Linked DNA regions of Homo sapiens. The protein of the gene in region 1 purifies or fractionates together with the protein of each later gene. This does not show direct contact. Each region holds a gene or a part of one and is shown on either strand. Other genes may lie near its edges.

Region 1 (3,500 bases):
TCTTCTTTGTGAAGTGGTCACCGTGCTTTTGAATCTTCCTTACAAATTATTCCATACACATCACAAATCTGACCAAGTTAACATCACTGGTTCCACAGCTGTCTTATGGCTAAGCAGTTCTGAATCACACAATAACTCTGTGATCCTGGGCAAGTTACTCTACTCCCCTTTTGCCTTTTCTTTTTAGGTGGAAAGAGTACAACACAGCACTTATCACAGAGGCGGTTGTCAGGACCAAACGACCATACAAAGGGCTTAGTATGGCTCCTGGAGCATAGTAAGCCTCCAAAGATACAACTGGTGTGACTGTGGACTGTTCCCAACCTGTAGTCCATGGAAGTCCATGGATGAGCTTCAGGGGATCCGTGAAGTCCCTGAAAATGTATGGAAAATTTGGTTTGCAGGTTTATGTTCTGCAGGTTCCCCGCACAACACCTCTTTCCTGCAGGACAGGGTGGAAAGCTCTTCTCAGAGACCTAAAGTCTGCATCCTAAACTTTGAAAGCTTCACAAGCACAATGAGACATTCCGTCCCATGTGACTGTCTTCCCCCTCCCTTGACTCCACTCCCTGTGACCTTCCCTTACCCCTGAATTAGAGGCACGGCCATCCTTCTCTGATCAGGTCCTGCTATTCCTCTTCTCTACATCCCCACCACAGATAGTCCAATCCTCTGCGACTGTGCTCCACTGACACCCCTGCACAGTACATCCCACAGGGGCGGTTTCCACGTCCCCATTCACCCAGAGCCCTATGCTGGGGGTGCTCCTGTAGAGAGGAGCAGAGACCCTCAGTGTGCAGAAGACCACCACCCTCCTGCTCTCCTGCTCACTCTCCCGCTTCCTCCACTCGCTACTGTCCTGGTCTCTGCCGCCCTCCCTGCACAACACCTCTTTCCCACAAGTTCCAGTCCAGCAGGTGGAAGCAGCTGTCATCCCGAGGCTCACCAGCTCCCCTTCTCAATGTTTTTCAATCTGAAACTGCCCAGAGGAAGAGCTGAAGGACCCCACAGCTCACCTGGGGCCAGGCTGTCAGGTGCATGGCTGCCATCCCCTGGTCCCCGTCTCAGAGAAGGGCTGGAGCTAAGGAGAAACACAAAGAGAGACAAGTGTGAGGCAAGCCACCCCAACCAGAGCAACATAGCCCCTCACAGAAAATGCAAGACACAGGCAGCTTGCATCCAAATAGGAGTGCGAACAGGAGCTGCCCAAGAAGGGAATGATCTGTTCACTGGCTCAGTGCCTAGGACTCCAGGCTATGACACTGAAATTCACTGCCAGGAACCCTAGGACTTTACAATTCTGATACATATCACACACACTGAAGAGTATATATATAAAATTTAAAAATAAACAAATAAAAATTAAAAATAAAAAGAAGAAGAAGAGTGCATATAAAACCTGCTGGGCACGGTGGCTCGTGCCTATAATCCCAACAGTTTGAGAGGCCAAGGCGGGTGGATCACTTGAGCTCAGGAGTTCGAGACCAGCCTGGACACATGGCAAAACCCTGTCTCTATAAAAAATACAAAAATTAGGCTGGGCGCGGTGGCTCAAGCCTGTAATCCCAGCACTTTGGGAGGCCAGGGCGGGTGGATCACAAGGTCAGGAGATCAAGACCATCCTGGCTAACACGGTGAAACCCCGTCTCTACTAAAAATATAAAAATTAGCCGGGCGTGCTGGCGGGCGCCTGTAGTCCCAGCTACTCGGGTGGCAGAGGCAGGAGAATGGTGTGAACCCGGGAGGCAGAGCTTGCAGTGAGCCAAGATTGCGCCACTGCACTCCAGCCTGGGCAACAGAGCAAGACTCCGTCTCAAAAAAAAAAAAATTAGCCAGAGGTGGTGACACATGCCTGTGGTCCCAGCTATTCGGGAGTCTGAGGTAGGAGGATCACTTGAGCCCGGGAGGTCAAGGCTGCAGTGAGCCAGTATCACACCACTGCACTCCAGCCTGGGTGATGAGAGTGAGACGCTATCTCAAAAAAATAAAAAATAAAAATAAAATAAAATGTATGCAGAGCCTAAAAAATAAAGCAAAGAGTCATGTATCCACAATTCATTTCAAGAAATAGGACAATACCAAGATCTTTGACTTATTTCTCTTTCTCAACACAAGCATTATCTTCAGTATCACAGCAGGAGAAGCTGGACTGGCTGGGCTGCAGCCCCAGTACACAAGCCTGGGGAGTCAGACCCCAGGGAGGCAGCGCCTGGAGAAGGCAGCTGCCCCCCAGTATCCTGCCCCACTTCCTCAGAGCTCTGAATGTCCTCAAGAATCCTAACACCTCTGGAGAGGTCTTGAGAGGTCAGTCCTCCTAAGGACAGCACAGGCTGTCCTTAGGAAGCTGAGCTGGAAGTTAGGAACCAGGCTGTTTCCCAAACTTTCCAGTCTTCTGATAGTGAATGAGCCAAGGCCTACACTTCTGCGTCAGCTCCTGAGAGAGGAGATCACTGTAGCAGCCAGTCCCGTGACCCAGAGCCTCTTGTTCACTGTATTCAAAAACATATGGACTAGTGATTTTCTGACTTTTACTGCCCCTAAAGTCAGTCTTGAAATTACATTTTCCTAAAATATCATCCATTTCTTCCAGGATTTCAACTTTACTAGTACAGAGTTGCAGAAAATACTGGTTCATGATTCTTTCCATTTCCTCCATATCCAGAGCTAGTTTGCTTTTCCCACTTCTTCTTTTGAATATATGTGCTTTCTAGACCTTTTTCCCAGGGTTAGAGTTAGAGACTAAACATTTATGCCCCTGCCAAATTCATATGTTGAAGCTCTAGCCTCCAATGTGACTGTATATGGAGACGGGGCCTGTCAGGAGGTTACAAGGATAAATGAGGTCCTAAGGGTGGGACTAAAGGTCCTAAGGTTAAATGAGGTCCAATAGGGGTGATGCCTTTACAAGAAGAAGGAGAGACCCAGAGCCCACGAAACCACTCACTCCCCGCCTCCCCCATGTGAGGACACAACGAGAGGGCTACTATCTATAAGCCAGGAAGGCAACCCTGGCAGGAGCCAAAATCAGCTGGCACCTTGATCCTGGACTTCCAGTCTCCAGGACTGTGAGAAATAAGTATGTTGGTGAAGCCACCCAGTCTATGGTATTTTGTTATGGCAGCCCAAGCAGACTAATACAGTTAGGCTGAGCAGTGTTTTACTTATTTTAATGTGGTTTCCTTTTATTTTCAAAGAACCAGCTTTTCTAGTTGAGCAACACTACTTTCTTCTATTTGTTTTAAATTCACTAATTCTGCTCTTAGTTTGTTCCTTCAGCTCTGTAAGGGGCAGTGTAAGCACCACTCCAATCCTCTTATCCCATCCTCAGTCCAGTTCTACAGAGGTTAGTCAGCTTTGTGAAGCTGCAAGCTACCAGAACCTTCACAAGGACCTACATCACCTATGCCTGGTTCCTGCCCTGGGGCTTCTCTGGTGTCCTATGTGGGACACCTGTGGACACCTGCTGGGCCCTGAAGTGCAGAGGCATTAACACCTGTGGG
Region 2 (3,500 bases), on another chromosome or scaffold:
CATTTGAATTTTGGACTGTTTGAAATACATATTTTTGAAGTTTTGCTTCATATTTGTTAGATTGATTGACTTAAGTTTTATAACCAGAAAGTACTATAGAATATACATGATTCATGAGATGTATATTTTTCTGAAGAGTTTACATTCATACTAATAGTTTTAGCATAATCAAATTAATATCTAGGCTTCCAATTTTTTTTAACAAAAGTTAATTATAAATATTGTTTTTCCAGTTGTCATTTTTATCTTGGGAGGATATCATTAATTATAGGTACTGTTTTTAACTATATAGTTTCAACATTGTAAGTATTTACATGGTCTTCAGATCAAATTGGGCTTTTTGCTCTTATTAGAAGCTGCTTTTTGAACTATGTCCTTAGTTAAACTTGTTTTTCCTCCATATGTCACTCTCTAGGTTTGTTTTTGCAGGGTTGTAGCTAGGCTACTAGGAAAAAAGTTGAAGCATTTGTTTTGGAAAATAAAACCATGTGAAGATTTGCATGGCTTGTAAAGAAATACAAAAGAAATATGCTGGTCAAAACTTAGGTACTACCAACCTTGAAAGAATTTTTTCCTGGTGGTCTAATATTGCACAGTAAGAGGATATATATGATGCTAGCTTTTACACCTTCCTCTGAAAAATCTTAATTGGCAGACAAGATGCCAAGTAACAGCAATTCTATTACCTACCCATAAGATTGGCTCTTCATAGTAAGAAATAGTAATCGAGTGACTTGATAAGTTACCTCTTTGCTACGTCAGATTGAATATCATCATTACTGATGAGCAGATAATGCAGTGTGTTTTTTAAATTACAAGTGGAATAATTTTTTAATATGAACTGCTTTTTCATTTGACCTATTGTAAGACTGTCATTATATGTGTTATTCCTCCTTTACAAGTTTAATATTTGCTCACATTCCCCTGTAAGTTTGCTATTAATTGGATGGATGGCTGTTAGCCTAGTGTTTTATGATATATCTTCATAATATTACAGATAATTTAAATTAGGAAGAGCAAGCTAGTATGCTGGCCATGTATATTTTAATAGTGTTTTGTTATTTTTGATACAAATATTGACAGTCATTAAATATAGACTTGAGTATTAATGGTCTGCCAGACATTAACTTAATTTTCTCAAATATACATTTATTCAGTTATAGCTTGTCTACAAAAATTTCTTAGAGTCTAAAATTGAAAATGCAATTGATTATTTTAACATTGGCATTTAATTTTTACAAATATAAGTGCCTGCCTGTATCAAAGTTTCTCACCTACTCCAGAAATATATACACGTACTGTGTACCCACAAAAATTAAAAATTAAAAAAAAGTAAAGTGCTTACAGATAATGTGTAAAAGCAGTCTATTTAAAAATTGGAGGCCAGGTGCGGTGGCTCACGCCTGTAATCTCAGCACTTTGGGAGGCCGAGGCAGACGGATTACCTGAGGTCAGGAGTTTGAGACCAGCCTGGCCAACATGGTGAAACCCCGTGTCTACCAAAAATAGAAAAATTAGCCTGGCATGGTGGCTCATGCCTGTAATCCCAGCTACTTGGGAGGCTGATGCAGGAGAACTGCTTGAGCCCGGGAGTCGGAGGTTGCAGTGAGCGGAGATCGTGCTACTGCACTCTAGTCTGGCCGACAGAGTGAGACTCTTTCTCAAAAAAATAAAATAAAATAAAATAAATAAATTAAAAATTGGATACTAATCATCTGTGATGTTTATGCACTTTATTTTCATGTAGTTCCTTTTCTTGGCATGTACATCTCAATGTGTTCCACCAATGTTTATTATTAGGATATTCCTATAGTATGAAAGGATAAGGTATAGTTTCCCACATTTTGTAGATGGAGATATTAAAGTGCAAAAAAAAAAAAAATTAAATGGCTTAGGGAACATTTCATTAATTGGACCAAAATGTTGTGTTCATGACGTGTTCAATAATATTTGGAAATTACTTATGGTTAAATTTATGCCCAAGTATCTCTTTGCCTAATGTGTTCCATATTTACTTGGTGGATTTTAATTTTTTGTTCTGTTTTGTTGTTGAAATTGGGGGACAGTTTGCTGGTCTTATCTGGGTTAAGAATTTGAAGTTTTGGTATGAAGATTTAGGTAAATATTTCAAATATTTTAAAATTTTGTTTTTGCTTACTGATGCCAATATTACAGCTATAGTCAAGGTTAACTTGATGTTTCCTTTATAAAACTTGATTTTTTTGGAAAGGGGGTGAAATATCTTGGACATTAAAAATTTATTGTACAAAACTATATGTTACTAGTTTTCTGGCACTGAAATATTCATTTCTATTTATATGTACCTACCTTTAGAATAGTCAGAAACTTAATTGTAGAGTTATGTTTACCATAGTACATTTTCAATCGCATTGTGAATTTATTCTATTTTTTTTTTCTTGGTGGGTAAAGCTCTTTCTTAAATTACACCATTTGAGGGAGTTTACATTTGTTAGTTAAATTGAATGAATACACTCATGTGTTCTCTAGTTAGTGTCCACCATATAGATCAATTCTTTTAAGAGAAAGCCTTAGGTATATAAGCACTGAGTTTGTAAATTGCTAAACGGAACTGAATAAACTGATTGCCCTTCTTATTCAAGGAAGGAAAATAAAAGTATATGGAGATTGGAAGACAAATATATCAATAAGTTATTCATGCATGTATTTCAAATTTAACTTTATAAACTGTATCGTGTGTGTGTGTGTGTGTGTGTGTGTGTGTGTGTGTGTGTGTAGACAGGGGTCTTGCTTTGTTGCCCATGCTTGTCTTGAATGCCTGGCTTCAAGGTATCCTCCCGCCTCAGCCTTCCAAAGTGCTGGGATACAAAAGTGAGCCACTGTGCCTCAGCCTTCCAAAGTGCTCGGATACAAAAGTGAGCCACTGAGCCTGGCAGTGTATCCATTTTAAAAAACAAAAAACCTGATTTTGATATTTTCTGATATTCTGTTACGTTTTTAAAGGACATGCAGACTTGTTGAAAGGAAGAGCAGAAAGTGGAGAAAGTTGAAAGACTTATCAAAGCTCAGCTAGGTTAGTGTTATGTCTTAGAATCCATGTTTTTAGAGCTTAAATTGCCCAAAGTAGAAATAAATTGAGTTCTTTCTAAGACAGATAGTTTTCACTGAGGTTACAAATTTTCCTGAGGATACAAAATGAGAACATTATAATTCCCAAAAATGTTTATATGCTTTTTTTTTGCAGTTAAATTTTCTACCTTAGCTGTTAACTAAAAATGTCCCTGAATAGAAGCACTCTTTCATAATCCTATCTCTGCTTTGTTGTGGATTCAGTATTTTCATAGTTGATCGTGTGAAATCTATAACGTCTTTGATAGACAAGTATATTGTGGCCGGGCGTGGTGGCTCACGCCCTGTAATCCCAACACTTTGGGAGGCCAAGGCAGGCGAATCACAAGGTCAGGAGACCAAGACCAGTCTGGCTAACACAGTGAAACCCTGTCTCTACTAAAAATACAAAA
Region 3 (3,500 bases), on another chromosome or scaffold:
CTGGAGTACAGTGGCGTGATCATGGTTCACTACAGCCTCAAACTCCTGGGCTCAAGCAATCCTCCTGCCTCAGCCTCCCAAGTGGCTGGAACTACACCCCACTGGGCACTACCATGCCCAACTAGTTTTTAGAAATTTTTAGTAAAGACAGGGTCTTGCTGTGTTGCCCAGGCTGATCTCGAACTCTTAGACTTAAGAGATCCTCCTGCCTTGGTTCCCCAAAATGCTGGGATTACGGGCATAAGCCACCATGCTGGCCTTTTTTTTATGTTCTGATCAAACAGCTCAGATTGTAATGCCTATACCTTTCCACAGTGCTACACTACATAAGAGCTTTCTCGTACCATTCACTCTCCTGCACGCATGTCTTTCCATCACATCCCCGCAATCCCATGTACACACACCCCACGCTGCCTCTCACTCCTGACGGGCAGGACCCTGCCTCTCGCCCACAGGGGAAGCCTTGGGCATCAAGTACCCGGTCCAGGTCCCCTACAAGCGGATCAAGAGTAACCCCGGCTCCGTGATCATCGAGGGGCTGCCCCCAGGAATCCCGTTCCGAAAGCCCTGTACCTTCGGCTCCCAGAACCTGGAGAGGATTCTTGCTGTGGCTGACAAGATCAAGTTCACAGTCACCAGGTACTCAGTGGGAAGGGTGAGGGTGAAGAGGCAGGACTAGCTCAGATGGGAGCTTGCACCTGCGAATCCTTAGCCTTTCCCTAGGTCCTGCCCTCCCCCCTGGACAAGGTGGCTCTCCTGGCACCATCCTGGGTCCTGGGGGTGGTTGGAGAGGGACTGCAGGCCAGCCCAAGTGAAGGGAGCCCTTCAGAAGTGGGACTGGTCACCCCCCCATGGCAAGGGCAGCCTTTGAGGGCATCTTCAACCTGTTCAGCAACACCCGCTCACTGCACCCCCAGCCCCCGGGAAAGGTATTCAGCCCCCATCAGAGGGATTTGCCCAAGGTCCCGGGGCCAGCCAGGGCAAAGCCTGCACAAGGCCCAGGTCTGCGTCCTGCAGAGTGACACTGCCAATGCCAGCACCCTGCCACATTGTCTCAGTGTCCCGCACACACAGAGCCCCAGGGCAGCTTGTTAAAATGCAGATTCTGCTGCTGTAGGTCTGGGGTGCTCCCAGGGGAGACCGAGGCCACTGAATCCCAGGGGTGTCTTCCTCATCCCCCAGGCCCTCCCCATGACACCCCTGCCTCTGTTTCTCTTCTAGGCCTTTCCAAGGACTCATCCCAAAGCCTGGTAAGAGGCACTGGCTGTGGAGGGGGCACTGGGAATAGGGCCCGATCGTGGTGCTGGGGACTGGAGCTAAGCCTGCTGTGGGGCACAGGTTCTGGGGTCTGGGAACAGAAGCCAGGCCCCTGCCTTTCTTTTTTTTTTTTCTGAGGCAGAGTCCTTCTCTGTCACCCAGGCTGGAGTGCAGTGGCTTCATCTCGGTTCACTGCAACCTCCACCTCCTGGATTCAAGCAATTCTCCTGCCTCAGACTCCTGAGTAGCTGGGATTACAGGCAATTGTCACCATACCTGGCTATTTTTTGTATTTTTGGTAGAGACGGGGTTTCACCATGTTGGCCAGGGCTGGTCTCAAACTCCTGACCTCAAGTGATCCACCCACCTCGGCCTCCCAAAGCGTTGGGATTACAGGCGTGAGCCACTGCGCCCGGCCTAGGCCTCTGCCCTTCTGTTTAGCCACCTTACCTGGGCTCCTGCCCCAGGTAGATGGAGGAAGACTAAGCTTGAATGTGGCCCCAGATCCTGGGACAGAGAAAGGGGTGGTGGCGTCAGTGACTTCTAAGTTTTACCCAGTCTGGGTTCAGGAGGGAGGGGCCAGGCCGAGTCAGTGCACCTGCTCCTCCTGATAAAGGGGCTCTGGTTGACCTCAGTGAATAGGCGAGGTTGGAGGTGAGTGGGTTCCTAACCGCAGAAGGAGGGGTGTCTGCATGGGGACCACAAGCATGTTGGTAAGATGTGGGTGGCGCCTACCCTGCCTTAAACAGTGCAGTGCCTCTCCTGACCCTTTTTAAAAAAATATTTTATATATATAATAAAATATATACATAATAAAAAATATATATAATAAAAATATTATATATAATTAAAAATATTTATATAATTAAAATATTATATATAATTAAAAATATTATATATATAATAAAAAATATTATATAGAGAGAGAGAGAGACAGAGACAGACCAAGTCTCACTTTGTTGCCCAGGCTGGAATGCAATGGCACTATCTCTGCTCACTGCAAACTCCACCTCCCAGGTTCAAGCTATTCTGCCTCAGCCTACCAAGTAGCTGGGATTATAGGTGGGCACCACCATGCCCGGCTAATTTTTGTGTTTTTAGTAGAGCTGGGTTTCACCATATTGGCTAGGCTGGTCTCAAACTCCTGGCCTCAAGTGATCCTCCTGCCTCAGCCTCCCAAAGTGCTGGGATTACAGGCATGAGCCACCACACCCGACCTCCTGACCCTTTTTAAGGCACCCATCCACTTCTGTCTCCACCATGGACTGTGTCCTGGCCTCCCAAACCCAGATTTGCAGGGGCTGTCCCTGCAGGGTGATCCCAAACCCAGATTTGCAGGGGCTGTCCCTGCGGGGCGACATGCCACTTGGCAAGCACTAAGGGCTGGCCAGAGCCTCCAGGGCGGGCCAGGCACGGTGGCTCACACCTGTAATCCCAGCACTTTGGGAAGCCAAGGCAGGAGGATCACTTGAGGTCAGGAGTTCGAGATCAGCCTGACCAACATGGTGAAACCCCATGTCTATTTAAAATCCCAAAATTAGCCAGGTGTGGTGGCGCACACCTGTAATCCCAGCTACTTGGGAGGCTGAGGCAGGAGAATCACTTGAACCCGGGAGGCAGAGGTTGCAGTGAGCCGAGATCGCGCGACTGCACTCCACCTTGGGCGACGGGACTAGATTGTCTCAAAAAAAAAAAAAAAAAAAGAACTTAGGGTACAGTGATGTGGCGGCTGCTGACAGGCCACGGGAACCCCCAGAAGGGGGATCAGGAGGGTGAGGGGTAGTTGGAGAGGGTTTCCTGGAGTAAGGATGGCCCTGCTTGGGCCTCAGGGGAAGATGGGACTTTGAGAGGCAGAGAGGAGGGTGGGTTTGGCGGGGTGAACGGCAGGGGTTGGGGGGTCACTGGATGCCAGAAGTGTGTTTCCGGAGCTCTCGGAGGGGCAGAGTGGTCAGATGATGTTGGAAAGGTGGAGAGAGTGGAAGCTGCAGCAGCACAGTGCAGTGAGTGTGGCTCCAGTGGACACCCGGCTGAGAGGTCACTGGGTTTCTGGCCCTGCACTGGTGCTTTATGCGGGTGCCTTTCACACATATTTTGGGAGGTCCTGCTGGGACAAGGTGGTATTCTAGAGGAACTAGGGTTACAGCAGAGTGCAGACAGAGGAGGCATCTCATTTAGTCTTCATAGCTAGGAGGTTGACGCTAGAGCCCACCTTACAGAGGGGGAGACTGAGGCTCGGTGTGAGT

Evidence for each region. The genes of interacting proteins can lie anywhere in the genome.
Region 2: the proteins of ZNF23 (region 1) and ARID2 purify together in Homo sapiens (affinity purification with mass spectrometry; one large-scale study listed by BioGRID and IntAct). This does not show direct contact.
Region 3: the proteins of ZNF23 (region 1) and GTF2IRD1 purify together in Homo sapiens (affinity purification with mass spectrometry; one large-scale study listed by BioGRID and IntAct). This does not show direct contact.

What each region holds. Positions count from the first base shown.
Region 1 is NC_000016.10:71,455,748-71,459,247, forward strand, and holds part of ZNF23 (zinc finger protein 23), read right to left. Parts: intron 1,082-3,500; 5' UTR 1,050-1,081; coding exon 1,017-1,049; exon of another isoform or gene 947-1,016; intron 375-946; exon of another isoform or gene 346-374; coding exon of another isoform or gene 325-345; intron 1-324. UniProt on the Homo sapiens protein: May be involved in transcriptional regulation. May have a role in embryonic development.
Region 2 is NC_000012.12:45,732,706-45,736,205, forward strand, and holds part of ARID2 (AT-rich interactive domain-containing protein 2), read left to right. Parts: intron 1-3,500. UniProt on the Homo sapiens protein: Involved in transcriptional activation and repression of select genes by chromatin remodeling (alteration of DNA-nucleosome topology). Required for the stability of the SWI/SNF chromatin remodeling complex SWI/SNF-B (PBAF).
Region 3 is NC_000007.14:74,558,406-74,561,905, forward strand, and holds part of GTF2IRD1 (general transcription factor II-I repeat domain-containing protein 1), read left to right. Parts: intron 1-455; coding exon 456-639; intron 640-1,221; coding exon 1,222-1,250; intron 1,251-3,500. UniProt on the Homo sapiens protein: May be a transcription regulator involved in cell-cycle progression and skeletal muscle differentiation. May repress GTF2I transcriptional functions, by preventing its nuclear residency, or by inhibiting its transcriptional activation.